4 linked regions of the Homo sapiens genome follow. The main gene of each other region encodes a partner of the protein of the gene in region 3 in a complex. Each region holds a gene or a part of one and is shown on either strand. Other genes may lie near its edges. The genes, in order: DRC7, DRC12, FBXL13 and DRC1.

Region 1 (7,023 bases), on a different chromosome or scaffold from region 3:
TTGACTTTCTGTGATTTCATCTCTGACCAATCAGCACTCCTGGTTCCCTGGCATCCCCCAACCCACCAAGTTGTCCCTAAAAACTCTGCTCCCTGAATGCACGAATGCTCTGGGAGACTGATTTGAGTAATAACAAAACTCTGGTCTCCTACACAGCCTGCTCTGCGTGAATTACTCTTTCTCTATTGCAATTCCCCAGTCTTGAATCAGCTCTGTCTAGGCAGCTGGCAAGGTGAACCCCTTGGGTGGTTACAATCTGGGCACACTGCCTATGGGGTAGCCCTGCTCCACAAGGAGCAGTCCATCTGCTGCTGCCGTACGCTGCCACTTCAAGTAAAGTTGCCTCTAACACCACCAGCTTGCCCTTGAATTCTTTCCTGGAAAAAGCCACGAATCCTCACTGGCAAAGCCCTGATTTTGGGGCCTGCCCCTGCATCAAGAGCAACAAAATTGATAAACCTCTAACCAGATTGATCAGGAGCAAAAGAGAGAACACACAAACTACCAATATTAAGAATGAATGGGGTAATGTCACTAAAGACTTTAACATATTAGAAGGAAAATAAGGAGCTATTTTGAACACTTTCATAACAATAAATTTGAAAACAAATGAAATGGACAAATTTCTTGAAAGATACAAACACCAAACCTCACTCAAAAACAGCTTGAGTCTTCCTATTGAATTTGTACCTTAAAATCCTTCCACAAAGAAAATTCCAGCCCCAGATGGCTTCACTTGTGAAGTCCAGCAAACGTACAAAGGAAATCATGCCAATTCTACAGAAACTCATCCAGAAAACTGAAGAAAAGGGAAACTTCCCAACTCATTCCATGAGGCCAGCATTACTGTGATACCAAAACCTGGCAAATATATTCTAAGAAAACTACAGAACAATATCTCTCTTCAACAAAGATACAGAAATTCTAAGCAAAATTTTCAGTTCAACACCAATAATATATAAAAGATTTAACCATCACAATGAAATGAGGTTTATCCCAGGAAAACCATGGTTAGTCTAACATTCAAAATCAATCCAAGTAACTTACCATGTAGATAAACTAAAAAAGAAAAATCATAATAATCTCAATAGACTCAGAAAAAGTATTTGACAAAAATCTAGCATCTATTTCTGAAAAAACTCTCAGCAAACTAGGACTGGAGAAAAACTTCCTTTATTTGATAATGGGAACCAATAAGAGAAACCTGTGGCTAATACTATACTTAATGGTATCAGACTAAATGCTCTCCGTAAGATCAGGAATAAACAGGTTTGCTTTCATCACTTCTGTTTAACATTTACTGATGATTCCAGCCAGTGTGATAAGGGAAGAAAAGCATCCAGATGGGAAAAGAAGTAAAACTGTTTTTATTCACAGATAACATAATTATCTGTATAAACATTGATGGAATCCACGCAAAGGCTATTAGGGCAAATAAGTGAATTTGGGAAGATTTCAGGATAGAAGATCAATATGTAAAAATCAACTGCATTTCTATTCACTAACAAAGAATAGTCAGAAGGTGAAATTTAAAAAAATCATAGCATCAAAAAGCGAAATATTTAGGAATAAATCTGACAAAAGATGTGCAAGAACTGTACACTGAAACCTACAAAATGTTGCTGATAGAAATTTTAAAAGACTTAAATAACTGAAGAGAGATACCATGGTTCATGGGTGAAAAATTCAATATTGTTAAGAAAACGGTTCTCTCTCAATTGATCTATGGATCCAGTATAATCTCAACCACAATCTTCTTTTTGGGGCCCGGGACAGTGGTTCAAGCCTGTAATCCCAGCACTTTTGGAGGCCAAGGTGGGTGGCTTGCTTGAGACCAACCTGGGCAACATTGCAAAACCCATTTTTTGTCTCTATAAAAAATACAAAAATTAGCTGGGCATAGTGGCACATGCCTGCAGTCTGTAGTCCCAGCTACTCGGGAGGCTGAGGTGGAAGAATTGCTTGAGTCCAGAGGTTGCAGTGAGCCGTGATTGCATCACTGCACTCCAGCCTGGTCAACAAAGGAAGACCCTGTCTCAAAAATAAAAATCTTCTTTTGGGGTGATGAAAAAATTCTGGAATTAGATAGTGGTGATAGTTGCACAATCTTGTAAATATACTAAAAGCCACTAACTTGTGCACTTTAGTGGATTTATGTTATGTCAATTACACCTCAATTTTAAAAAGGGGGGAACACAATCAGTCTAATTTACCACTTAATAGAAGAAAAAATTATGATCATTTAATAGATGAAAAAAACATTTGATATAAACAAATTTTGTTTGATTAAAAAAAAACCTGCTAGTGAACTGAGAAAGAAATCCCTTAGTTAAATAAAGGGTAGCTAGCTATAAAAACCCTACAGTCAAGATAAACATCACACAAATAGTGAAATGTTATGATACTAAGGCGTTACTTGTGAATCAGGACTGAGACAAGGATGTTCAGAATCCCCACTTCAATTTGACATTATACTGGATGTACTAACCAGAGAAATAAAACAAGAAAAAGAAATGAAAAAGTATAAGGATTAAAAATGAAGAAACAAAACGGCCATCATTCAGCTATAGAACTGATTGTATATGCAGAAAACCCCAAAGTCTTTACAGATTAATTTTTAAAATGAATAAGCAGGTTTAAAACTTACTGGATATGTGAACAGTTTGCAAAAAGCAATTGCTTTTTTTTTTTTTTTTTGAGACAGAGTCTTGCTTTGTCGCCCAGGCTGGAGTGCAGTGACGCAATATAGGCTCACTACAACCTCCGCCTCCCAGATTCAAGCAATTCTTCTGCCTCAGCCTCCCAAGTAGCTGGGATTACAGGTGCCCACCACCACACTTGGCTATTTTTTGTATTTTTAGTAGAGACGGGGTTTCACCATGTTGGCCAGGCTGGTCTTGAATTCCTGACTTCAAATGATCCACCCTCCTCAGCCTCCCAAAGTGCTGGGATTACAGGTGTGAGCCCCCACACTCAGCCAAAAATCAATTGCATTAAATAAAACCACAGTGCAATACCATTACATGTCCACTACAATAGCTAAAATGGAAAAGAAAGTATCCAGTATTGGCAAGGATGTGGATGGAGCTCTGAGAACCCTCATACATTGCTGGTGGGAGTGTAAATGGATGCAATCACTTGAGAAATCGGGCAGTATCTACTAAAACTGAGTATGTGCCCACCCTGTGACTCAGCGATTCCACCCCTCAGTAGTTACCCAACAGAAATGTGTGTATGTGTTCACTGAAATATATGTATACAAATATTCATGGCGGCATTATTCAAAATAGTCCCAAACTGGACACAGTCTCAATGTGCAACTGTAGAAAGGACAAATAAGTTCTGGTGTATTCAAATAATGGAAAGTAATAAAAAATGAAAATGAACAAACCACACAAAAAACCACAATGAATTTCATAAACATAATGAGTGAAGGAATCCAAGAGTAAGAGTATTGAATCACTGTGTGATTCAACTGATGTAAACTCCAAAAACAGATGAAACTAATGGATGTCGTTAGAAGTCAAGATAGTGCTTAACTCTGGGGACGATGGTAGGGTTGGTGGCCAGGAGGAGACATGAGGGGGCTTCTAATGGTCCTGGCTACACAGGTGTGTTCAGTGTGTGATAATTCAATGGTATGTACACTTAGGATTGTGACCTCCTCTGTACCCTCTTGTAGGCGCGTGTGTGTACCAGTGCCACATACGTGAGTTAAAAATACATTTGGAGGAAGATAGTAATTGTGCAAAGGGACTTTGTGGGGTTTGGGCAATATTCTATTTCTTGGTCTGGGTGTAGGAAACCAAGGTGTGTTAAATTTGTGGGATTTCACTGAACTGTATGTATGCATGGGATGAGTGTACTTTTCTGCATGTAGGTTACACTTCAATATAGAGTTTTTAAAAAATGCATTCAAACAATCCACACTTTAGAAGGATACACAAATCAGGAGAGACAATAATCGTATCAGAATGGTTATTCATGGGCAAGGGAGTGGGCCATGGAGACGCAGCTATGGAGAAGGTTCAAAGCCCTCGTGGCCTGGTGTCTCGCTCTCCCCAAGGTCTGGCTGCCATTGCTTCCCTCTATTCCTATCACCTGCACTGTGCCTGCCACACCCACCCAGCTCCCCCTCCCTAGGCACCTTGCAGCAGTTCCAGCAATCCTGCATGTTGATCCAGTAGTTCTTGTGGTTCCACAGGCTTTCGATGCCCAGGAAGTGCTCATCCTGGGTGCTGTAGCTATGTCCTGTGAATGGGTCGATGAAGAAGTTCTCAGGCACCTCGCGCTTCCCCGATAGCACAAGGACCCAGGAGTGCACCCGCAGGCCGTGCAGGGCATCCGGCTTTGCCTTCTCCGCTTCCTGCCAAGGAAAGGTGGGTGACTACGAGTCAGATGGCTGGAAGAGGAGTGTCAGGGGCCCAGACATCTCCCTGGGGCTGGGGAACCAGCAGGAGAGCTGAGTTCTGATGTAGACTGCACCATCAACCGGAGTGTGACGGCCCATCTCCCCTCCCATCACCCAACCACTGAGCCCATTTGTAAAATCAAAACAATGGGAGAGTCTGACTAGATCTGTGGTTTACAAATCGGACTCTTTGGGGCACTGGGCATCTGGGGGTTACCGGCTTTATATGTTATGACTTTGGGTGAGGTTTCATCCACAGAAAGGAAATGGGAGACCAAGTACCTTTCTTATCTGCCTCCCTCTGAGAGAACTGTGACTGTCTTGTTGTTCATTGTTATGTATAAATAGGTCTGGACCAGAAAAGAAGCTCAAGGAATACTCTATGGAAGGAAAGGAAAGAAGGGAGTGGGGAAAGAGGATTGGAGGAAGGATAGGAGTGTGGAGTTGGAAGAAGAGATGGGAGATGGGTAGGAGGATGGCTGGCAGGATGGATGAGAGGACTGATGGCAGGAAAAATGGATAGGAGGATGCATGGGAGGAGAGAGGGGAGGATGGATGGATGGGAGGATGGGTGGATGGGAGGATGGATGGATGGGAGGATGGGTGGATGGGAGGATGGATGGATGGGAGGATGAGTGAGACAATGGATGGATGGGAGAACAGTGGGTAGGAGGGTGGATGGATGGGAGGATGGACGGATGGGAGGATGGGTTGGAGGAGAAATGGAAGGAAGGATGGATGGATCGGAGGATGGTGAGAGGATGGATGGGAGAATGGATGGGAGGATGGACGGATGGGGGGGTGGGTGGGAGGATGGACGGATGGGAGGATGGGTGGATGGGAGGATGGATGGATGGGAGGATGGGAGGATGGGTGGATGGGTGGATGGGAGGGTGGGAGGATGGATGGATGGAAGCATGGATGAGAGGACGGATGGATGGGAGGATGGATGGATGGGAGGAGAAATGGGAGGATGGATGGATGGGAGGATGAGTGGGACAATGGATGGATGGGAGAACAGTGGGTAGGAGGGTGGATGGATGGGAGGATGGACAGATGGGAGGATGGGTTGGAGGAGAAATGGAAGGAAGGATGGCTGGATCAGAGGATGGTGGGAGGATGGATGGGAGAATGGATGGGAGGATGGATAGTTGGGAGGATGGACGGATGGGAGGGTGGGTGGGAGGATGGATGGATGGGAGGATGGGTGGATGGGAGGATAGATGGATGAGAGGATGGGAGGATGGGTGGATGGGAAGATGGGTGGATGGGAAGATGGGAGAATGGATGGATGGAAGCATGGATGAGAGGATGGATGGATGGGAGGATGGATGGATGGGAGGCAAAATGGGAGGATGGATGGATGGGAGGATGGGTGGATGGGAGGATGGATGGATGGGAGGATGGTGGGAGGATGGATGGATGGGAGGATGGTGGGAGGATGGATGGATGGAAGGATGGATGGGAGGATGGATGGATGAGAGGATGGATGGGAGAATGGATGGATGGATGGGAGGATGAGTGGGATGATGGATGGATGGGAGAATAAGTGGGTAGGAGGGTGGATAGATGGGAGGATGGATGGATGGGAGGATGGATGGGAGGAGAAATGGGAGGATGGATGGATGGGAGGATGGATGGATGGGAGGATGGATGGGAGGAGAGATCAGAGGGTGGATGGGAGGATGGATGGATGGGAGGATGATGGATGGGAGGATAAATGGGAGGATGGATGGATGGATGGGAAGATGGATGGATGGGAGGATGGGTGGGAGGATGGATGGATGGAAGGATGGATGGGAGGAGAGATGGGAGAATGGATGGTTGGGAGGATGGATGGATGGGAGGTGGGTGGGAGGACAGATGGATGGGAGGATGGGTGGATGGGAGGATGGATGGATGGAAGGTTGGGTAGGAGGATGGATGGATGGGAGATGGACAGATGGGAGGATGAATGGGAGGAGAGATCAGAGGATGGATGGGAGGATGGATGGATGGATGGATTGGCGAATGGGAGGATGGATGGGAGGGGAGATGGGAGGATGGATGGGAGGAGAGATGGGAGGATGAATGGATGGGAGGGTGTATGCAGGTATATCCCCAGTAAGAGTCTAGAGCAAAGAGGACACCAGAGCTGCCTAGCATAGAATGGGCTGCCCCAGGCAGTACAGTGCCCTGATGTTAGGAGTCCATCATGAGAAGCTGGCTGACCACCAGTGGGAGATTCCTGCAGGGCCAGGTAGAGGTTGGGGGTGATTGTGAGGTGGACCTAGTTGGGGGGTCCATACACACATCCCCTCCATGACCTATGCCTCTTTTCCCATCCCTAGCAGTCCTTTCTCGATAGCTGAGCCCAGGGGATTCAGGGCTGAGGACCCACCATGAGGCGCTCCTCCTCCTCCCTCAGCCGCTTCTTCTCCTGGGCTCTGATCTCCTGCTGCTTCTTCACCTCTTGCTCCTGCTCAAACCTGCTGCACAGGTCCCTGGGGGGTTTGATGGTATACTTCTTAGGCAGCACCTTTTCCTCCTTCTTGATGGTCTGTCACCCAAAAGAAGAGGAAGGGTCAGTGGCCCTGCATCCCCCCTTTACATGTGCAACTCCAAGAGGTGAG
Region 2 (7,790 bases), on a different chromosome or scaffold from region 3:
TAGTAGAGACGGGGTTTTGCCATTTGGCCAGGCTGTTCCTGGACTCCTGACCTCAGGTGATCCGCCCGCCTTGGCCTCCCAAAGTGCTGGGATTACAGGCCTGAGCCACCGCGCCTGGAGCCTCTTCTTTACTTACAGCAGAGATTTTTGGTATCCCGAACCCTCTGCTGCAGTCCTCAGTGGTGGAGGGTCAGCGAAAGTGGGGAAAGTGATCCAAGAGCCCAGACGGCAGCTTTCTGGAGCAGAGACTTTGAAGTCTACCCCTTCATGCTGGCCCTTGCTGCAACTCTTGGAGAGAAGGGGCTTGGAGGGTGGGGAAACCTACCTAGCTGCCCCCGAAGGCCTTTGACTTCTTCCTCCAGCTGCTTGCTGCGGGTTTGCATATCCTCCTGCAGGGCATGGCACTGGCGACTCATCTCTGGGGTGGGGGCAGTGGGCCACCAGGGACCCAGGTTGGAGATGGAGGGATGGAGAAAGGAAATGAAGTTGTGGGTGGGGAAGACTCTACTTGGTCTAGTGGAACAGGAGCACAAAGGCCTTCTTGGTTCTTTTTGTGATTCTGAGAAGCTGCAGACCATGAAAACCTGAGGAAGGGACAGGAAGCCCGACCTACCTCCCCCAGTCCAGCTTTGGATGGGGATGCTAGCCCTTCTCCCCGCCCATGGGCTGATTGAGATGATGGCTATGACTGCATGTGTATCCTACACAGCATCAAGCACATGGCACCAGGCATCCTGGAAGGCCCCTGCCTGGGATCCCAGGAACCTACCTGCCTTTGGTTCCTGCAGGATCCTTCCTGATTTGTACTGTTTGGGAAAGACCAAGACCAGGCCTGGCAGTCGGAAGCCCTCCTTGTTTCCCTTCCTTGCATCAACTGACCCTGTTGGTTGTCCTCCTCCAAGCCCCTGTCTCCTGCCCACCTGCTTAACCGACCACACACCTGCATATATGGCCTTCCCTTCACTTCGGGCCCCTTCCAGCTCAGCCTCCACCCCTTGCAGCCTCTGCCTCAGCTGGTCTTCGGAAGCCTTGGCTCGACGGGCTTCATCCCTCCGTAGAGCTGTGAGCAGTCCCAGAGCCGCCGTCAGGACTGGCTGGGTCCCACTAAATCAGCCCCCATGAACGTGATGGACTTTGCCCACCTCTAGAAATCTGGTGGTGGGGTGTCCAGCCTCTTACTCTCTCTCTGGGTTTTGTTGTTTTTGTTTTTTATCCCTAGAGTCTCACAGGCTCCTCATTATTAAGAAGTAAAAACTCCCTCTATGTTCTTTTCGGATAGCCTGGCATGGTGGCTCATGCCTGTAATCCCAATATTTTGGGAGGCTTAGGTGGGAGAATTGCTTGAGGCCAGGAGTTTGAGACCTGCCTGGGCAACAGAGTGAGACCTTGTCTCTATAAAATAAATAGGGCCAGGCGCGGTGGCTCACGCCTGTAATCCCAGCACTTCGGGAGGCCAAGGCTGGTGGGACACAAGGTCAAGAGTTCGAGACCAGCCTGGCCAACATGGTGAAAACCCGTCTCTACTAAGAATACAAAAATTAGCCAGGTGTGGTGGCCACGTGCCTGTAATCCCAGCTACTCGGGAGGCTGAGGCAGGAGAATCGCTTGAACCTGGGAGGCAGAGGTTGCAGTGAGCCGAGATCACACCACTGCACTCCAGCCTGGGCGACAGAGCACAAGACTCTGTCTCAAAAAAAAAAAAAAAAAAAAAAAAAAAAAATAAATAAATAAAGTAGCCAGGCATGGTGGTGTGCACCTGTAATACCAGCTACTCGGGAGGCTGAGGCGGGAAGATTGTTGCGGCCCAGGAGTTAGAGATTACAGTGGACTATGACCATACCACTGCACTCCAGCCCGGGCAATAGAGCAAAATTCTGTCAAAAAAACCAAAAAAAACAAAAAACAAACAAACAAAAAAAACACCTTCCTTTATCAACTCTCACTGCCCACCCTCTCTCATCATCTTTTTCCACTAGGGGATGGTTAGGGTCAACTTAACCCCCCACCATACCTCCAACTCTCCAATCCCCCAGGATACAGAAATGCCCCATTTCACTTCCCCTGTTGCCCACCCATGCCAGCTTCTACCCTCCTTACCCAAGTGGTCTCGGAGCAGCTCCTTCTCCAGCACCACCAGCCTGTGCCTGGACTCGGCCACCACATCTGCACCTGCGGTGGCAAGTGGCAGAGCCTCAGCTCTTCATGATCTCAGCATTCCTCACTCTGCTCACATCCTCACCCCACACCCTGCACTTTTGCCACAGCAGACCTGAGGACCACTAAATGAGGTATCCACAGTGGCAGAGTCTACTGAAGTCAGCACCGTGTCCTCACCGACCAGCACATAACAGATATGCAAAATACACATGACAAATATATTAGGAAGGCACAGAGCTAGATGGGGCTTAAAGGAGAGCGTGGGTGACCATTTCCCCACTTCCTCAGCTCCCTGGATCTGGCTGTGAGGACATGAAAGAGGTAGGTCAAGAGAGCTCCATCCTGTCCTGCAGAAGGCTGAATTCTCTCTGGAGGAGCTCTGCGTGGTCTTCATGGCAGAACATGGAGAAGCAGGGGGCACCTCCACCCACCATGACTCACCCCAGTTCTTTTTCTTCTTCTGTGCCCCAGATTTCTTCCCTTTTTCTTTGTTTTTAGGTGGCATCTCCTTGCTGTCCTGGGAGAAGGAGGGGACCTTATGTTTAGGTCTGGACACAGGGATGCTTTCCTGAGCTTTAGACTGAACCAGGAGACTCTCCTGAGTCCAAATTTGTCTCTCATATCCTTCAGAAAAGTCAGTTCACAGTCTCTTTGGAACCTCAGACAGGGTTGGGGTCAGTGGGGAGGATGGAGTTTTTTCTCTCAACCAGGCTGACTCTGTACAGAAGTCATTCCTTGCAACTCTCTTTTAGAGAAACGAAATCCCTGTACCTGCTCCCCTCCCTCTTCCCATCATCCTCAACCCTCACTTCCTACCTGTAGGATCCTCTCCTGCCAGCGTTGGGGCTCCCCGTGGAGTGACCCACTCGTGGGGAGTGGCAGAGAGAAGGCCCAACTAGCGAGGAGCCTGAGGCGGGGCCTGGGTCCTGGGAGCCAATCCTTGGTGGCAAATTTCTCTTGAGGGCAGGACTGAGGGCTGGAAGGTTGGGTTTCCAGAGGCTGTATGTTGTCCAGGCAACTGGGAAACATGGAGTTCACAGGAAGGTGGAATGGGCTAAATCAGCTCACAAAGTTTAAAATATCAAGGTCTCAAAGGGTCAGTTCTTTCCTTATCCCAAAATCCTAAGTATAGTTTGAAAAGAAAGGGCTTTGGAGGTCGATTAGTTATGATTCATTGCCATGTAGACATGGCCTGCAATTTGGAGACTTCCAAATTCAGATGTACACATCTGAGATAATATGTGGTGCTGATACAGAGGAAAAGGACTGACAGTAGCCATGTTGGACAACTGACATCCCGAGGTCCCACCAGCAAAATGACATTAGTAGGCTTAAAACTGAAGATCTAAGCTGGGGCGGTGGCTCGTGCCTATAATCCCAGCATTTTGAGAAGCTGAGGCAGGAGGATTACTTGAGGCCAGGAGTTCGAGACCAGCCTGGACAACACAGTGAGACCTCATTTCTACAAAAAAATTAAAAAATTAGCCTGGTGTGGTGGTGCACACCTGTAGTCTCAGCTACTTGGGAGGCTGAAGCAGGAGAATCACTTGAGCCTGGGAGGTTGAGGCAGCAGTGAGCTATGATTGCACCACTGCACTCCAGCCTGGATGACAGAGGGAGACCCTGTCTCAAACAAACAAAACTCCCAGACCACCGAAGATCCTCTTCAGTACACTGTAGAATGAGGGTAATAAGTGCAGGAATAGGTAGTCCAGGGAGTTTCCCACTTCAGAGAAATGAGACGCAGAGGAATAGTGGACCCATGGACTCTAGGGTACTGACCTAGAGGGATGCAAGTGTGGAGGAAAGAGCTCAGGTTAGAGACAAGACATGTGAGTTTGAGTCCCAACTGTGGATATGTAAACTGAGGCGAGCCATTTGACTTTGCTCAGCATCAGTTTCCTGATCTTTAATTGTTTGATTTTGCAGCTCTTGAAAAGCCTGTGTTTTAGCTGCGTGTTTACATGGCTATCTTCTCTCCTAGTGACTTAATCTATTGCTACATTTCCCCATTCCCTTGTGTGGTTGATTTTCAGACAGGTGTTGAGACATTGCTTTGTGAGGCTCCCTGTAGCATAGAGTTGGTTGGGGCTCCCTCTAGTGGACTTGTTTGACCTTCTCCTGAGTTTCCTACATTTTTGCTTTTAAATTATTTACTGGGCAACAGTGGGGGTGACTCCCTTTGGGGATACTTCTTAGCGTCCTGTTTGAGCCAGGAGTGGCTGGAAGAATTAACATTGGGGAGAGAGTATGATGGGTGGCCCTCCCTTGTCAGGCAGCCCTCACTTTCCCTCCAGCTCTGTGCTATCCTGGAGGCTTGCCATTTATCTGCCACTTGGATCTCTGGGCACCATACTGGTTAGAGTGAAAATAGCAAAAACTTCAGGACTTTTCTCCTTTTGGATTAGGGGACCTGCAGACCCTTTCTTTTCTTTAGGTTTCTTTTTTTTTTTCCCGTGTCTCTCTCTGTCACCTAGGCTGGAGTGCGGTGGCATGATCACGGCTCACTACAGCCTCAGTCTCCCTGGGCTCTGGTGATCTTCCCACCTCAACTTCCTGAGTAGCTGGGACTACAGGCGCATGCCACCACACCTGGCCAATTTTTGTATTTTTTGTAGAGATGGGGTTTTACCATGTTGTCCAGCATGGTCTCAAACTCCTGGCCTCAAGCGATCCACCTGCCTTGGCCTCCCAAGGTTCTTGGATTACAGGCGTGAGCCACTGCACCAGCCTATCTTTTTTTTTTTTTTTCTTCAGACAGAGTCTCGCTCTTGTTGCCCAGGCTGGAGTACAGTGACGTGATCTCGGCTCACTGCAACCTCCACCTCCCAGGTTCAAGCAATTCTCTGCCTCAGCCTCCCAAGTAGCTGGGAATACAGGTGCCCACCACCACGCCTGGCTAATTTTTGTATTTTTAGTAGAGATGGGGGTTCACCATCTTGGCCAGGCTGGTCTTGAACTCCTGACCTCGTGATCCACCCGCCTTAGCCTCCCAAAGTGCTGGGATTACAGGCGCGAGCCACTGTGCCCGGCCTTCTTTAGGTACTTCTCTTCATCTCTGTCACCCTCAATATTTTTGGTCCATTGCCTATTGTCAGGAGCAGATCTGTAGAAATAGCCACAAGAGGCTGGGCGCGGTGACTCACGTCTGTAATCCCAGCACTTTGGGAGGCTGAGGCAGGCAGATCATGAGGTCAGGAGTTCGAGACCAGCCTGGCCAACATTATTAAACCCTGTCTCTACTAAAAAATACAAAAATTAGCTGGGCATGGTGGCACGTGCCTATAATCCCAGCTACTGGGGAGGCTGAGGCAGCAGAATCGCTTGAACCCAGGAGGAGGAGGTTGCAGTAAACAGAGATTGCGCCACTGCACTTCAGCCTGGGCAGCAGAGCAAGACTCCATCTCAAAAAAAAAAAAAAAAGCCACAAGATCTGGAATTGAAAAGTCCTTCTTCTGGGTAGTGGGTAACTTTAGGCAGAGGCTGGTTCATGCTTGTCACCTTGGTGGCTGCACGGCACTTACATGAACTTCCGGGCATTTTACAGAGCAAAGAGAAGAGCCAGTCTTGACTTCCCAAGTGCTTCCAGCTCCTGTAACTCAGAGTCAACTAATCTTGTGGACATCTCCCAAATCTGGAGGATATTTTTCTTCTAATCTTTTATTTATTTATTTTTGAAGCCAGTGGAATTTAGTAGTGGGCGCCTGTATACCAACTTTAGTGACTATAAACCAAAAATAAAATTCTAAGCCTGCCAGCCATCTGAGTGGACCCCTCCTCTAGGCCAAGGGCTTTCCAAAGTGAACCTGAAGAACTAGTTCAGGCCGTGATGGGAAGGGGGAGCCGGACATGCCTCAACATACCCTCCTCCCTTTTAGAATTACTGATAGAACACACTCTTTAAATCTGATAAGAAACATTTACAGGCCTGGTGGCTCATGCCTGTAATTTCAGCACTTTGGGAGGCTGAGGCGGGCAGATCATTTGAGGCCAGAAGGTTGAGACCAGCCTGGGCAATGTGGTGAAACCCCATCTACACAAAAAATACAAAAGTTAGCCCAGTTTGGTGGTGTGCATATGTAGTCCCAGCTACTTGGGAGGCGGAGGTGGGAGGATCACCTGAGCCTGGGAAGGTTGAGGTTGCAGTGAGCCATGATCACGTGACTGCACTCCAGTCTGGGAAATGCAGTGGCACCCTGTCTCAAAAAATAAAAAGAGAAAAGATAAGAAGAAAAAACATTTACAATCAATTCTCTCTGAGGCCTGCTACCTGGACGCTTCATCTACATGATAAAACCTTGGTCTCTTGCCGGGCACGGTGGCTCACTCCTGTAATCCCAACACTTTGGGAGGCCAAGGCAGGTGGATTCACCTGAGGTCAGGAGTTTGAGACCAGCCTGCCCAACGTGGCGAAACCCTGTCTCTACTAAAAATACAAAAAATTAGCCGGGTGTGGAGGCGGGTGCCTGTAATCCCAGCTACTTTGGAGGCTGAGGCAGGAGAATCGCTTGAACCCGGGAGGTGGAGGTTGTGGTGAGCCGAGATTGCGCCACTGCACTCCAGCCTGGGCAACAAGAGCAAAACTCTGTCAAAAAAACAAAAACAAAAACAAAAAACCCTTGGTCTCTGCAACCCCTTATTGTAACCCAGACATTCCTTTCTATTGATTCCAGGTCTTTAGATAATAACTCTTTCAAGCAATTGTCAATTGGAAAATCTTTGAATCCACGTATGACCTGGAACCCTAACTCTAACCCTAATTCTCTTGCCCGCTTCTTCGCTTCCAGTTGTCCTGCCTTTCTAGACTGAACCAATGTACATCTTACATATATTGATTGATGTCTTATGTTTTCTTAAAATTTATATATAAAGCAAGCCGGTGCAGTGGCTCACGCCTGTCATCCCAGCACTTTGGGAGGCCAAGGCAGGTGGATCACCTGAGGTCAGGAGTTCAAGACCAGCCTAGCCAACATGGTGAAACCCTGTCTCTACTAAAAATGCAAAAAATTAGCCAAGCATTGTGGTGGGCGCCCATAATCCCAGCTACTTGGAAGGCTGAGGCAGTAGAATCTCTTGAACCCGGGAGGCGGAGGTTGCAGTGAGCCGAGATCGCGCCATTGCACTCCAGCCTGGGCAACAAGAGTGAAATTCCGTCTGAAAAAAAAATGTATAAAGCCAAATTGTAGCTTGTTCACCTTCGGCACTTGTTCTCAGGATGTCTTGAGAGTTGTGTCACGGGCCATTGGTCACTCATATTTGGCTCAGAATAAATCTCTTCAAATATTTTACAGAGTTTGACTCTTTTCTTTGACATGACACTAATGTTAATAAGTTCTGATAACCCAGTACCATCAGACCAGCTTCTTCTAATCTTGAGCATGTTTTTCATTTATTCTCCCTCCACCACCTCCTTCTCCTGTGCTGTAATGCAGTGGGGGTACCTGTCCCTGTCCTCCTCATCTAGAAGCCTGTTTGGGAGGTTTTTCTTTCTTTCTTTTTTTTCTTTTTGAGACAGAGTCTCGCTCTGTGGCCCAGGCTGGAGTGCAGTGGCGCGATCTCGGCTTACTGCAGCCTCAATCTCCTTGGCTCAGGTGATCCTCCCACCTCAGCATGGTGGGACTACAGACGCACAC
Region 3 (7,023 bases):
AATTTAGGCAGAAATTTTGTGTAGTCAGTACTTGATTTGGCTTCTTTTTTTTTTTTTTTTTTTTGAGACGGAGTCTTGCTCTGTCGCCGAGGCTGGAATGCAGTGACGTGATCTAGGCTCACTGCAACCTCCGCCTCTCAGGTTCAAGCAAGTCCCCTGCCTCAGCCTCCTGAGTAGCTGGGATTACAGGCGCCCACCACCACACCCGGCTAATTTTTGTATTTTTAGTAAAGATGGGGTTTCACCATGTTGGCCAGGCTGGTCTTGAACTCCTGACTTATGGTCCACCCGCCTTGGCCTACCAAAGTGCTAGGATTACAGGTGTGAGCCACCGCTCCTGGCCTGGCTTCTTTTTTAAATCATGATTATTTAGACAGAAGAACTACTGATGTGTTTGGAAATATTTGTAGTTGGAATAAGAATCAGAAGATGGTTTGTTGCTTGTTTACATTGTTATTGAGATTCAGCTAGTAAACATACTTGCAACAAATGGAGAAAACTTGCCAAGTTCTTGATTTTTTGTTCTTCCTGCTTGAGGCTGAAGGTCACGCTGCTTGGTCTTCACTGCTGTATGTTGACTTTTTCACTGTTAATTCTAAGGCTCCTTTAGATGATGTTATGTTGTCAAGCTCTGTAACAGGGTTTCCTTCCCTATCATAGCCAAACCAACGTGGAGGGTCATTAGTGTTGTATTCCTGCTGCTGAACTTTAGATGACATTCTTTGAGCTGCCTTCCTGTAATAACAGTGCTTAGCATTAGCTAGTTGCAGAAGTAACCCCTAGTGCAAAATTTTCAAACTCAACCAAATTTGGAGTTAGGGAATTCACTGTCACAATCTGAATTCACATGAGACCTCTCTTGCCTTGCTGAGAGTGAGGATATGGGTAAGTGTACAAATAAACAGGGTCCCAAAGCCTCAGTAACTCTGATTCAGCCAGTTCAGAAATTAACAGATACAGTGAATGGGTAAGGAAACTACACATGGCCATGGAAGAGGAACACTGAGGCCTCTATTTATTTATACTGCTTTAAGTAAGCCCCTTCCTTGGTATTTCTAGTTTCTCTGATGAGGGAGTAACCTAACCAGCCTACCTGTGAAGGCTGACCATGCACCAGGCCAGGAGCTCTTAACCCAGAGTTCACAGATCCCTTTTGACTACATGGATGAACTTCAGGGAGGTCCATGAACTCCCTGAAAGTTCATGCAGTTTTGTCTATAATACACATTTTTATGAGAAGGTTTGTGACTCAAAGGTGTCACAACACTATAACACAGTATTAAAAAATACTGTTATAGTCTTTCTTAGCAGGAAACAAGAAAGTAAAGAATGCATCAGAAAAAAAGTAGGTCTAACTTGAAAACAAAGCCATTTTGAGGACAGAAGGAAGAATTTCCTTTCCTAGAAAGTTGGTTTGAATCACGAGATTAGTACTAAAGAGGAGATGAGTAATTGACCACTTCTGTACGATTAGAAATGAGTAACTATGATGTTTACCCATGAAGGCACTACCTTCCCCACTCTTGCCGTATGTTACCTTGAGTTATTAATTGCAAAAGTCTGGAAACTGAGTCATTGATATGGAGCTGGCATTACCATACACTTCGAGTTAAGTTTGTGCTGAATGGCCATATGAGTTCAGGTAAGGCAATGAAATAGGAAGAAAAAAAACCAACAACATAGAGATAACAGTTTAAAATGCTATTTCAGTTAAATCAAACTTTAGATGTATTAAAATAATTGTAACCAAACTTAACAGGGAGGTAACCAAAGCATTCCTAATTCTGCCTCTAAGCACATTGCTTTTTAGCTTATTATTGGCTCTCACACAAAACTTCTACAAACTTAAAGAACAAATTGAGTAAAAGCAATTATCATATACTAATTCCTAGTTTGGAGCCACCAATCCCTATGGACTAAAACTTGGCAAACAAGTTTATTCTCTTCAGAGAAATATTTATTCTCAGTTTTGAAAATGGTAAGTTTATTGTCAAAGATAATGTTTTGCATTCTGTTAATTTTTTAAATCTTTTTTTAAGGTGCTAGCCTGCATTTTAAACCTCTTATATAATCTTTACATATCCTCAAAGTAGAACATTACTATGCAAAAGTAGTGGGTTTATATCTTTTGCTTTTCCCACATTATTCTCCTAATGATATTTCTCCCTTTTCAATTCTATAAAGGTGAGATTATCATATCTTTCAACACATTTTCTGAACATTTTTCCCCTTAAGACTTACTGAAATATAATACCAAATGTTGAGGCATATAACATTAGCACCATCAGTTTCATGTAACAAACAGCAAGGCTCCATCATTACCCTTCACCCATCTCTATCAGTCTAAACATTATCCATTTTTCAAAACTCCAAACCAATCCAGCCTCCTTGGAAATGGCTCAAACCCAGTCTTCTCCTCCTCTAAACATCTACAGGAAGTTGATCATAGAATTAATTTCTTTCTATTACATAGCTTCAGGGCATTAATTATTTATAATTTTAAACTTTGTTATTTTCCTTTTGTTTAAGAAGGTAGTAAGTTACTTAAGAGTTTATTACATTTCTTTGCATCTCCCTGAAACTCATCATGAATAGCTCAAACGAGAGATTTCAGCAGCTTACACCAAGAAGGGAAGTCCTTTAACCCTCTTGGCTTCTGCTGGATTGCTGGTCTAGAAGGGGCATTCTTATGTTCCTATTTCCAACACCCTCCTGCCCCCTGCCTCCCAAACACCAGAGTTCTGGACACACACTGCAGTTCACAGTTGTTCATAATCATTCAATGCCACTGATGTTGACTGTAGTACAAGAGTAGCACAGTTAGAGGCAACAATGATCTTGACCTATAGGAAAAGGAAATGCTTGTTTTAGGGAGTAAAAGATTTGCAAATCCTCATTCACCAAGTTACATCTTACCTTAATGTCAGAAGAGCAACAGTTTTGACGGCTCTAGATAACTGGTAAGAGGATAAGTACTACTAATGATAAGTCTGGGAAAGTGTAAATATTGAGTCCTATGGTTGCTCAGTCAGCTACAAGCCAGGGTAAATTAGATGGTAATTGTGACATAAAACAATTAGCAAGTAGTGGGGGTTTGAGAAAATAACAAGAAAAAGGAAAGTGAGAATGCTGACTCCTTAATATAAGATAAGGAAAACAGTGAGTGAACAGGGAGACTACTCATTTAATGCAGTGTGATGGGACAGAATCGAAATGAGCTGCATGTTGAACCCCAGCCATGGGTGAAGTGCCCACTGGTATATGCATTTCTTTAATGTCCTCATTCCTTAGTCCCTGTCCCCCTTACCCTAGCTCTGCTCTCCAGTCCACCCACAGACAGCTTTAGTGAAACCAAACATCAGTGGGTCCCTGACTATTGGAAGTGATGCTTACTGACTGGAGGGGAGCAAAGGATCAGATCTCAGACCCACTCTCCTTCCAGACTCAAGTTCTGGGAGGTTAAGGCTTCCTCCACCTGGTATGTCTTTAGGGCCTGTTTTAGTCTGAAGTGCTTTCACAGCAAGGGTGGTCCTAGGGAAAAACAGAAAATATGAATCTGTCCTGGAGCAAATCTAGGATTATTTTTAGAGAGCTATGGATACTAGTATAGACTATTCCCTATTCCACTTCTTTCCTGCCCTTCAGAAAATCCTTAGCCGTGACTAGCTGTCCTCACCACCTTTGGCATCCTCACACGGACTGACTAACCTAAGACCCAGGACCTTGCCAAGAGAAGAGATCGGCAAGTGGCTGCCAGAAGGTTTTTCTGAGTTCTTTATCATAGCATCCTATGTAGCTGTGTGTTTGCACACACGCACCTTTAAAAAAAAATTTAGATTCAGGGTGTACACGTGCAGGTTTGTTATGTGGGTATATTACATAATGCTGGGGTTTGGGCTGCTATTGAACCCATCAGCCAAATAGTGAACATAATGCCCAGTAGGTACTTTGTTAACCCTCGCCATCCTCCCTGCCTCCCCACATTTGGAGTTCCCAGTGTTTATTGTTTCCATCTTTATGTCCAAGTGGTTAGCTCCTACTTTTAAGTGAGAACATGCAGTATTTGGTTTTCTGTTTCTCTGTTAATTCACTTAGGATAATGGCCTCCAGCCGCATCCATGTTGCTGCAAAGGACATGATTTCATTATTTTTTATGACTGTGTAGCATCCCATGGTCTGAATGTACCACATTTTCTTTATCCAATCCACCACTGACAGGCACTTAGGTTGATCCCATGACTTTGCTATTGTGAATGATGCTGCAATAAACATACAACTGCAGGTGTCTTTTTGATAGAATTATTTCTTTTCCTTTGGGTAGATACCCAGTAGTGGGATTACTGGATGAAATGGTAATTCTATTTTAGTTCTTTGAGAAGTTTTTATACTGCTTTCTATTTTGGCTGACCTAATTTACATTCCCACCACAGTGTAAAAGCATTCCCTTTTTTCCACATCCTCACCAGCATCTTTTATTTTTTGACTTTTTAATAATAGCCATTCTGATTGGTGCGAGATGATACTTCATTGTGATGGTAATTTTGCATTTCTCTGATGATTAGTGATGTTGAGCATTTTTTCATATTTTTGTTGGCCACTTGTATGTCTTCTTTTGAGAGGTGTCCGTTCATGTTTTTGCCCACTTTTTAATGGGCTTATTTGGTTTTTGCTTGTTGATTTGTTTAAGTTCTAGATTCTGGATATTAGACCTTTGTCGGATGCATAATTTGATAATATTTTTCTCCCATTATCTTTACTCTGTTGATAGTTTCTTTTGCTGTGCAGAAGCTCTTACACATGTATTTTGAATCGTATCAGGAAAGTTAAAAATGTAGAAACTATATTTCTGGGAGAAACCTCTCTCTCTCTCCTGCCCCTCCCCTTTCTCTCTTAATAGCTTGATGCTGTAGTGTGATCAGCACATGGGAGCTAGGAAATATTGAAAAAAACATGTATTCTTAGGAACCACTGTGTGTTCTAAATTCCATAGAGCACATATGGAATTCTTTGACTGCATTCCATTCTGCTTTGGCCTAAGTGACTGTGAGACCCCGTATGAAATGATTTGGGAATTGAACCAATCTGCTGCAATGGTTACTCATTTATCCTGGTGAGAGGTTTCTTTGGATCAGTATAGAACAGTGATTTTCAAACATGATATGTCATAGTTGTAACATTTCACATTAGATGGTTAATAATAACACTGTACTGAAGTTTGTTAGTGATTTTTGTTTCTTATAAATTAAAAGGGATTCAGGGTTAGCCCTGTAGTAACACTGTGTGCCTTAGCTCACATTTCCTTCTAATCTCTTGAGTAGGCAAAAAAAGGGAATGTTGGAGCCACCACCAAGGACTGCTCATAATCCACAGCCTCTCTTATTGTGCATCAGACATAAATTAGGCAAAACAGAGCACGTGTCTACCCTTACTGACCACATCCCTTGAATGTCAGAGCTTTTTAAAAGCTTGAGAATGTAATATAAAGGCGAAGAGCAGCACAGTATGATTAAGACCTAGGTACAAAGTATGGCTCTCCTTATTTGTGTGGCTGTGGGCACATTATTTAACCTGTTTAAACCAGTTTCCTTATCCATTTTGATGATAAAGTGTATTTGTGAGGCAATATCTGTAAAATAGGATTTAGCACAGTACGTGGCAAATAATAATTGTTAAATAACATTATTTGTTCATACTGATAATAAAAGTCAACAGCTCCACATCAGAAAGGCTTGAACCTTTCCATGAGCTAGAGAGGAGAACTCTGATAAGAGTTTTATTTTTTATCAACACAGATCTCCTAGAATGCCTGAGCAGTAGGGACTGTCCGAGTTTAAGCTTCTAGCAACTGCTAAAGAAGGCCTTCCAGGAATTTCATACTGTGATTTGGGGCTCTGAAGGCCACTAAGACTTTCTCTACTAGTTCTCTAGAATTGAAGGTTTTGGGCTCCAGATAGAAATATATCAAAAGTTCCCTTTATTTTTTTAAAAAATTTATTTCCAACTTTTATTTTAGGTTCAGGAGTACATGTACAAGATGTACAGGTTTGTGACATAGGTAAACGTGTGCCATGGTGTTTTGCTGCACAGATCATTCCATCACCCAGGTATTAAGCCCAGTATCTATTAGTTATTCTTCCTGATTCTCTCCCTCCTCCCACCCTCCACCCTCTGACAGGCCCCAGTGTGTGTTGTTCCCATCCATCTGTCCATGTGTTGTCATCATTTAGCTCCCACTTATAAGTGAGAACATGCGTTATTTGGTTTTCTGTTCTTGGATTAGCCTTTTCGCTAACTATACAATTAGTGATTCTTCAGGTTCTCTGTGGTTCAGGCCCTCCTGGGTTGTGGGGGCCATTGTGAGGGTCTTTCTTCCTCTCTCTCACTCCTACCTTGTTGCCTTTCCCCACAGAGGGCCATAAGTTGAATGGCTGGCTGTCACAGCTGCTTCAAATACAAATAGCTTGTCGTTTTCTGATCATAGTTGTTACTTATTCCTCCTTGAAATAAAGGAGCCTTTATCTTGCATCCACACGGTGCTTCTGGGGTCACTTCCTGGAAACCCTTCAGACTCTGGGGTTGGTAGAATGCCAGCCATATCTTCTGCAGGAAACTCTCCTGCAAAAGGGCTACAGCCAATTTGCTCATTGACCAAAAGTTTGCTACTCCTCTGGTTCAGAAAGGGTGAGCTGAGCAGACATCTTTGATTTGCAAAGCTGGTGCAGTAGTTTCAGATTCCATTGAGTATGAGTGAATTTATGTATAAAACAGCCTCTTCTGACGGCTGTAATTGGACCTTAAGGGCTGCATCATACATTGTTTTCATGTTCAAAATGGAATCAAGCATGTGGAGAGCATTGCTTTGTGATTCAAAGACATTGAGCTTCTTCCCAAGCCAGAAAAATCTCTCTTATCCCACCTGCCAAAGGTTCTGTTTCACCCAGACAAATCAAAGCCTCTGCAGTTGAGGGAGCCACACTGGCCCTGATTAGATAGTGAGCATAGGTAAGGGATTAGAGATCATCA
Region 4 (7,023 bases), on a different chromosome or scaffold from region 3:
CCATTTCCTCCCAAAACCCTCTGACATGCCAAATGGAAACGGCCACTTCCTCCTCTGAACAATGGTGCACCTTGAATGTGCTTTGACCATTACTCTGATCACAAGGCAGTGCCCCCACAGTGCTTACACATGGCAGCCTTCAGTGCATGTCTGCTGAATGAATGATGAGTGAAAAAAGCACAGATCACCACTATGCCCTATTGCTTTCCTGACTGTCCAGCGATTGGTTGCCCCAGCCCGCCTTCAGATAGCCCTGTCCTTAGTCCCCGCATCTTGCCCAGCAGACTCTTCTCCACTCACTGGCTCTGCCTGGCTCCCCAGCCCATCCAGCTCCCCTGGTTCTGGTCTCAGGCAAGCCTTCCAGCCCCGCAGCCCACCTAGGCTTCTTCAGACCCATGACGAAGGCCTCCAGAATCTTGAGGACATCATTGGGGTGGATGACCCAGGGGGAGGGTGGGGTCTCCTCCTCTTCCTCCTTCTCCCCTTCCACCAGGCTTTCTTCCTTTTCTCCCTCCATCTCCGTCTGCTCTGCCAGCTCCAATTCTGACCTCGTGCTTGTCTCCTCCATGCTCGCCTTCTCCATGCTCGCCTGACTGCAGGGCTTGATCTGGAGAAAGATGCACGGACAACTGTGGGCTGGGGACACACGAGCATGAGCATGGAGAGAGAGGCAGGAAGAAGAAAAACCAGAAAAGTTTACAGAAAGTGACAGCTTGCCCAGGGAGACATTTACACAGGGACAGAAACAGGAGAAAGAGTGGGAAGAAGGGGGATGGGATGGGGAGAGGCACTAGGAGGCTACGAGAAAATGGAAAGGTTCTGTTTCTAAATCCGGGCTCCTAGGTGCTCACCTTACTGACATTCATAAAGCTTACATGTTAGAAATCTTCTTTTGAATCATAATACAGATTAAATTTTTGCTTTAATTGTTAAATTTAAAAGGTCTTCCTCCTACTCCTATTTTGCAGTTCATGCAATTGACCTCCCACAGGCAAACGAATGCTATCAAGTTTCCTATGGTTCCTTCCAAGGAAATAGTATGTCTATATAATGTTTATATATAAATACATGCGCATACCTTTCCATATATACTCCTCCTTCTCGTTTTGACATCAATGATACTATACTACAAATAGAGTTCTGTAGTTTGCTTTTACACTTACCAATAAACCTTAGGTACCTTTTCATGTGAATACATAAAGAACTTTGGTTTTTTCCCACAGTTTTATAGTACCCCATCGTGTAGACATACCATATATTATTAAATAGATTCCTCAACAATGGACATATAGGTTGTTTCGAATCTTCTGCCATTTCAAACAATGTACAGTGAATCAGCTACAATAAATACACCATTTCAACTGTAATGAGATATATTTAGAGAATAAAATCCTAGAAGAAGAATTTCAGAGGCCAAGGTGGGCAGATCATTTGAGGTCAGGAGTTCGAGAGCAGCCTGGCCAACATGGTGAAACCACATCTCTACTAAAAATACAAAAATTAGCCGGGCGTGGTGGCAGGTGCCTGTAATCAATCCCAGCTACTCAGGAGGCTGAGGCAGGAGAATGGCTTGAACCTGGGAGATGGAGGTTGTAGTGAGCCGAGATCGTGCCACTGCACTCCAGCCTGGGCAACAGAGTGAGACTCTGTCTCAAAAAAAAGAAGAAGAATTTCAGAGTAAAATGTATATAGTTTTGTAATTGATACTGCCAAACTGTCCTCAATGGAGGTTACAATTTATACTCCTACCAGTAACTTATGAGTGTGCCTGTTTTCTACACCTCAGTCATCGCTATGTTATACTTGCTGTGTTATCAAGCTTTTTTTTTTTTTGCGCCAACATAACAGGTTGGCAAAATGGAAATCAGCCATTTTAATTTGCATTTCTCTTATTACAAGGAAGGCTGATTGTCTTTTCATATGTTTAAGAGTTACCTGTATTGCCTCTTCTAGGAGTTGTTCATTCATATTTGTTATCTGTTCCTTTTGTTGGTCTTTTTCTTATTGATTTCAGAGAGCTCTTTATATATTAAGGAAATGCCTTAACTATGATATGAGTTGAAAATATTTCTCTGCAGCTTGTCATTCATCTCTTAACTTTGCTTATCATGATTTTTGCACTACAGAATTGTTTTTAAATTCTGTAGTCAAATATAGCTTTTATTCCCTTTATGGCTTTGTGGTTTTGTCCATTTCTGCCAGCTCTTTTTTTCTTTTCTCTTTTTTTTCCCTTAGAGACAGTGTCTCACACTCTGTCACCCAGGCTGAAATGCAGTGGTGAAATCATGGCTCACTGCAGCCTCAACCTCATCATGGCTCACTGCAGCCTCAACCTTCTGGGCTAAACTGAGCCTCCCAAGTAGCTGGAACTATAGGCATGAGCCACTGTGCCTAGCCCAGCCAACTCTTTTTACAGGCATGTCAGGATACTCAGCTTTGGGCTAGCAGTACTAAAAACATTTTTCATTCACATTTTTCATTTTTAAATTAAAATGTTATATGACTTTTAATATGGCATCTTCTTTAAAATAGTTAATATTTGATTCACCTTCTGAAATCAATTACAATCAAGATATGTAGGACAAATGGGCCTTGCCTTGCGGGAAAGTGTTAAGGATCAAAATATTCAGAACCTGGTGGGCTCTGGTCTCACAGTGGCTGAGACCTGGTTTTGAGGGAGGGTGCAGGAAAAGATTGCTTGGGCCTCAGTATAAGAACAGCATCTCACCCCCAAGCCATTCTTCCCTTTACAAAGAGACAAATTGATAAACAATAAGGGAAATGCTAAGTTAGCTATACCTGACATAAAAGCCCCGCTATTTCTCCAGAAGTGCTACTCAAAGACAGCACTGTGCTCTGGGGGCTTCGGGACAATTGAAAATGCAGGGACATGGATGAAGCTGGAAACCATCATTCCCAGCAAACGATCACAAGATCAGAAAACCAAACACCGCATGTTCTCACTCATAAATGGGAGTTGAACAATGAGAACACATGGACACAGGGAGGGAAACATAACACACCGGGGCCTGTCGGGGGGTGGGGGCTAGGGGAGGGATAACATTAGGAGAAATACCTAATGTAGGTGATGGGTTGATGGGTGCAGCAAACCACCAGAGCACATGTATACCTATGTAACAAACCTGCATGTTCTGCACATGTAACCCAGAACTTAAAGTATAATAAAATAAATAAATAAATAAGAAAGAAAGAAAATGCTTTCTTCTCTCTGCACCTTGCCTTACCTGGAGGCTGGAAGATAAACGGTGAGCTCGATATTTAAGGAAGAAGTTCACCAGTTTATACAAGTCATCCTCACTTTCAATTCCAAGGGCCTGGGGCGAAAAACAGGATGGTTGCTCAAACACCCCATCAAGAGGCCACGGGCTTGGGCAGCTGACAGATGCTCAGCTCCTAAGAGCGGGAGGCTTGGCTTGTGGAGGGCATTCATCCAACGCTGGGAAGCGACTGTGAACTTGGGGACACACACATCAGAACACACGGAAACAATGCTCATAGAGCCAGGAGCTGCTCCATATGGATCCCATGGCTGTGAGGATGCCTAGTGGGGCTGCACCAGATTTGAGTTTGGGGGTGTCAGGGAGAACCTACAACCTGAGAGGAAGATGCTAGTAGAGGAAGAGGCAGGGGTGGGAGACACTGCAGTGAGTCTGAGACCAATGTGTTGTGTGGAGAGTAGGTTAAGGGAAGGATGTGACAGGGAGCAGGGGAAGCCCCGGGAGACCCTCGTCCACTGCCAGGGTTGAGGCAATGGCAGGGCCATCTGAGAACACGGCCGGCTGCAGCCCCACCCGTGTCCTCCCAGCCCCGTTGGACTCACGGAGAAGATGGCATCCAGCCTCAGCAGATAGCATTCATTCTGCTCCAGGGGCAGGAGAAGGCTCAGCAGCTTGCTCTCTATGAGGAACCCCTGGGGAGAAGGAAGAAGGCATCTCCTGTCGGGGACAGGTTTCAGGAGCGAGTCCCAGGGTCTGCAGCTGCCCCCTGTGTAACACTCCAGGGACCATGCCACGGAGCAGACGCCCAGGGATGGGAGCCAGCAGTGGGCCCCAGCAAAGCCTTCTTGGGGTGCCCATGAACGCCCCCCTCCCCAGGGAGCAAGGCCAGAGACAAGCAAGGCCAGGGACAAAGCCCATCCTCACCACAGACTTAGCTTTTCCCACCCAGAAGGGCACCAACCCACCTCACCCACAAGCCACTAGGCAAACTCCTGAGGCCCCCACCACAGTCCAAAGCTGACCCAGTCACAGGCTCCTGCTTCACCCATAGTCTTGTCCCCAAATATCTACAGAACACAGCAGCAGGACAGGGAGGCATGGAAAGCAGTGGGCACCCCAAACCAAAACACAGCACACATGCGGTGGAAGGGAGAGGGCGGCTGAGCAGATGCGGTGCCCGCTCTGAGCTGGGATGCCTGGGGGAGAGCTCCATGGGGAGGTGGCCTCTGCATCCAGCTGCAGGTTCAGAGGGCAGAACCTGCCACCTGACCCCTTCAGCAGCAGCTGCCCTCAGTGGCAAGAGCCAGCCAAAGGCAACTGCCCTCACTATCCTAAAAGAATACCCACTTCAGAACCGTAAGATCCAAACAAACACTGCCCATGTTTGACCACAACCCAACCTCCAGCTGAACCAGCTCAATGCAGCTTTTATTCTAAGGCTAATCATGTTTGCTAACATACAATGCAGACATCCAAATCCCAACATAGCCAGAGTCACCCCCAAAACAAGCCCCTGAGAAGGGCCATGTCAGTGTGGCCACATCACTTAGCAAGTTGGTTCATGGAGGTGAGCTGGTGCAACTTCTGTCTCAGAAGCAGCATCATTTTAAGCTGGCAGGAGCCCTCCAGCTGGCCTAAACTATGCCATGCTGGCCAACCAAGGTTAGACCCATTTTCCAGCTGGGCCAGCTCAGAGGCAAGGCCTCTATGAACCGGCCCTGAAGTCCAGGGGCCATCCTGACTCTGCTCCTCAGGGCCCAACCCTGGGCTTGGCCAGGGGAGGACTGGCCCACTCCTGACTCCAGGCTAGCACTGGCCCAGCAGAGGCCTCAGAACCTGCACACCCCCGTGAGTCCCTCTGCTGCAGCCCCCGCCTGGCCTCACCGACTCGTCACACAGGAGCATCAGGATCCTCTTGGTAGTTTTTTCAGAAATTTGCTTCGGCAAATCCAGGTAGGACTCTGGTTCCGCGGCGGCCTCTTCTGCCTCCTCCTCTTCTGCAGTTGGGTCATGGGGAGGAGAGAGAAAGAAAAAGAAGATAATTTCTGGAGCTAGTTGACTCTGAGAAACAGTCAGATGGCTTTCCTTGAGAAAATGTACCTCTTAAAAAGCCTCTGTGAGGCATTCTCTCAGTCTCTTTATGATGAAAAAAGCCTATTACGTGGCGGGAAGGCGGGCTAGGGGGTCGGAATCAGAGACTACCTGGAGAACTCGGCCATTCCCAGCCAGCCTGTAATGCCCTACTTTTCCAAATTGCGTCTACCTGGAAACATCATACTCAAAATCCAGCCATGAACCAGGAAGTGGGAGGGAGAGTGTGAGCCCATTTATTCTTATTTCAGAGATGATCTAGCAAGTGGCTATATAGTCTCTAAACCTGCAACAGATTAGACAGAAGCAGCCAACTCAAAGCAGGGGCAGGTGGCTTTGCACATTCACAGATAATTTTTTTTTTTTTTTTTTGAGATGGAGTCTTGCTCTGTCACCCAGGCTGGAGTGCAGTGGTGTGATCTCAGCTCACTGCAACCTCCGCCTCCTGGGTTCAAGTGATTCTCCTCCCTCAGCCTCCCAAGTAGCTGGGATTACAGACACCCACCGCGACACCTGGCTAATTTCTGTGTTTTTCGTAGAGATGGGGTTTTGCCACATTGGCCAGGCTGGTCTCGAACTCCTGAACTCAAGTGATCTGCCTGCCTCGGCCTCCCAAAGTGCTGAGATTACAGGCATGAGCCACGGCGCCTGGTCCAGAGAAATATTAACAGCAAGAACTGACAGCTGACAGCAAGAGCCAAAAATTTTCTTAATTAAAATTAACTTCTTAGGCCAGGCGTGGTGGCTCATGCCTGTAATCCCAGCACTTTGGGAGGCTGAGGCAGGTGGATCACTTGAGGTCAGGAGTTTGAGACCAGCCTGGCCAACATGGCAAAACCCCGTCTCTACTAAAAATACAAAAATTAGCTGGGCATGGTGGCACGCACCTGTAATCCCAGCTACTCAGGAGGCTGAGGCAGGAGAATCGCTTGAACCCAGGAGGTGGAGGTTGCAGTGAGCCAAGACTGCACCACTGCACTCCAGCCTGGGCAACAGAGTGAGACTGTCTCAAAAAGACAAAAATAAAACAAACGAACAAAAAACATAATTAAATTGTAAAAAACCATTCCCTAATAATCAAAAGCAAAACGAAACAAAAATACCTATATGTGTATCAAGCTGGTGATATAACCACACAGAAACTATTCCAAGTGCATTTATTTTTATTTATTTGTTTATTTATTGAGACAGAGTCTCGCTCTGTCACCCAGGCTGCAGTGCAGTGGCATAATCTCGGCTGACTGCAACCTCCACCTCCCGGGTTCAAGTGATTCTCCTGCCTCAGCCTCCTGAGTAGCTGGAATTACAGCCGCGCGCCACCATGCCCGGCTAATTTTTGTATTTTTAGTAGAGACAGGGTTTCACCATGTTGGTCAGGCTGGTCTCAAACTCCTGACCTCATGATCCGCCCATCTTGGCCTCCCAAAGTGCTGGGATGACAGGCATGAGCCACCGCACCCGGCCTATTTTTATTTTTTTTTTAATTTTTATTATTTTTTATTTTTTTGAGAAAGAGGCTCACTCTGTTGCTCATCCTGGAGTGCAGTGGTGCAATCTTGGCTCACTACAACCTCCACCTCCCGGGTTCAAGCGATTCTCCTGCCTCAGCCTCCTGAGTAGCTGGGATTACAGGCGCACGCCATGACCGGCTAATTTTTTGTATTTTTAGTAGAGACAGGTTTTCGCCATGTTG

What was found.
Region 1: FBXL13 (region 3) and DRC7 share a complex: the UniProt entries of both Homo sapiens proteins name them as parts of the nexin-dynein regulatory complex.
Region 2: FBXL13 (region 3) and DRC12 share a complex: the UniProt entries of both Homo sapiens proteins name them as parts of the nexin-dynein regulatory complex.
Region 4: FBXL13 (region 3) and DRC1 share a complex: the UniProt entries of both Homo sapiens proteins name them as parts of the nexin-dynein regulatory complex.

Annotation. Positions count from the first base shown.
Region 1 is NC_000016.10:57,704,803-57,711,825, reverse strand, and holds part of DRC7 (dynein regulatory complex subunit 7), read right to left. Parts: intron 6,951-7,023; coding exon 6,792-6,950; intron 4,367-6,791; coding exon 4,148-4,366; intron 1-4,147. UniProt on the Homo sapiens protein: Component of the nexin-dynein regulatory complex (N-DRC) a key regulator of ciliary/flagellar motility which maintains the alignment and integrity of the distal axoneme and regulates microtubule sliding in motile axonemes.
Region 2 is NC_000011.10:119,192,826-119,200,615, forward strand, and holds the start of DRC12 (dynein regulatory complex protein 12), read right to left. Parts: upstream 3,017-7,790; 5' UTR 2,974-3,016; intron 2,675-2,973; 5' UTR 2,663-2,674; coding exon 2,599-2,662; intron 2,170-2,598; coding exon 2,098-2,169; intron 1,061-2,097; coding exon 941-1,060; intron 419-940; coding exon 326-418; intron 1-325. UniProt on the Homo sapiens protein: Component of the nexin-dynein regulatory complex (N-DRC), a key regulator of ciliary/flagellar motility which maintains the alignment and integrity of the distal axoneme and regulates microtubule sliding in motile axonemes.
Region 3 is NC_000007.14:102,812,797-102,819,819, forward strand, and holds part of FBXL13 (F-box and leucine-rich repeat protein 13), read right to left. Parts: intron 3,532-7,023; coding exon of another isoform or gene 3,390-3,531; exon of another isoform or gene 2,855-3,389; intron 2,844-2,854; coding exon of another isoform or gene 2,780-2,843; exon of another isoform or gene 1,621-2,779; coding exon of another isoform or gene 1,593-1,620; exon of another isoform or gene 736-1,592; coding exon 546-735; 3' UTR 1-545. UniProt on the Homo sapiens protein: Substrate-recognition component of the SCF (SKP1-CUL1-F-box protein)-type E3 ubiquitin ligase complex.
Region 4 is NC_000002.12:26,446,904-26,453,926, reverse strand, and holds part of DRC1 (dynein regulatory complex protein 1), read right to left. Parts: intron 5,237-7,023; coding exon 5,124-5,236; intron 3,932-5,123; coding exon 3,842-3,931; intron 3,336-3,841; coding exon 3,246-3,335; intron 608-3,245; coding exon 378-607; intron 1-377. UniProt on the Homo sapiens protein: Component of the nexin-dynein regulatory complex (N-DRC) a key regulator of ciliary/flagellar motility which maintains the alignment and integrity of the distal axoneme and regulates microtubule sliding in motile axonemes.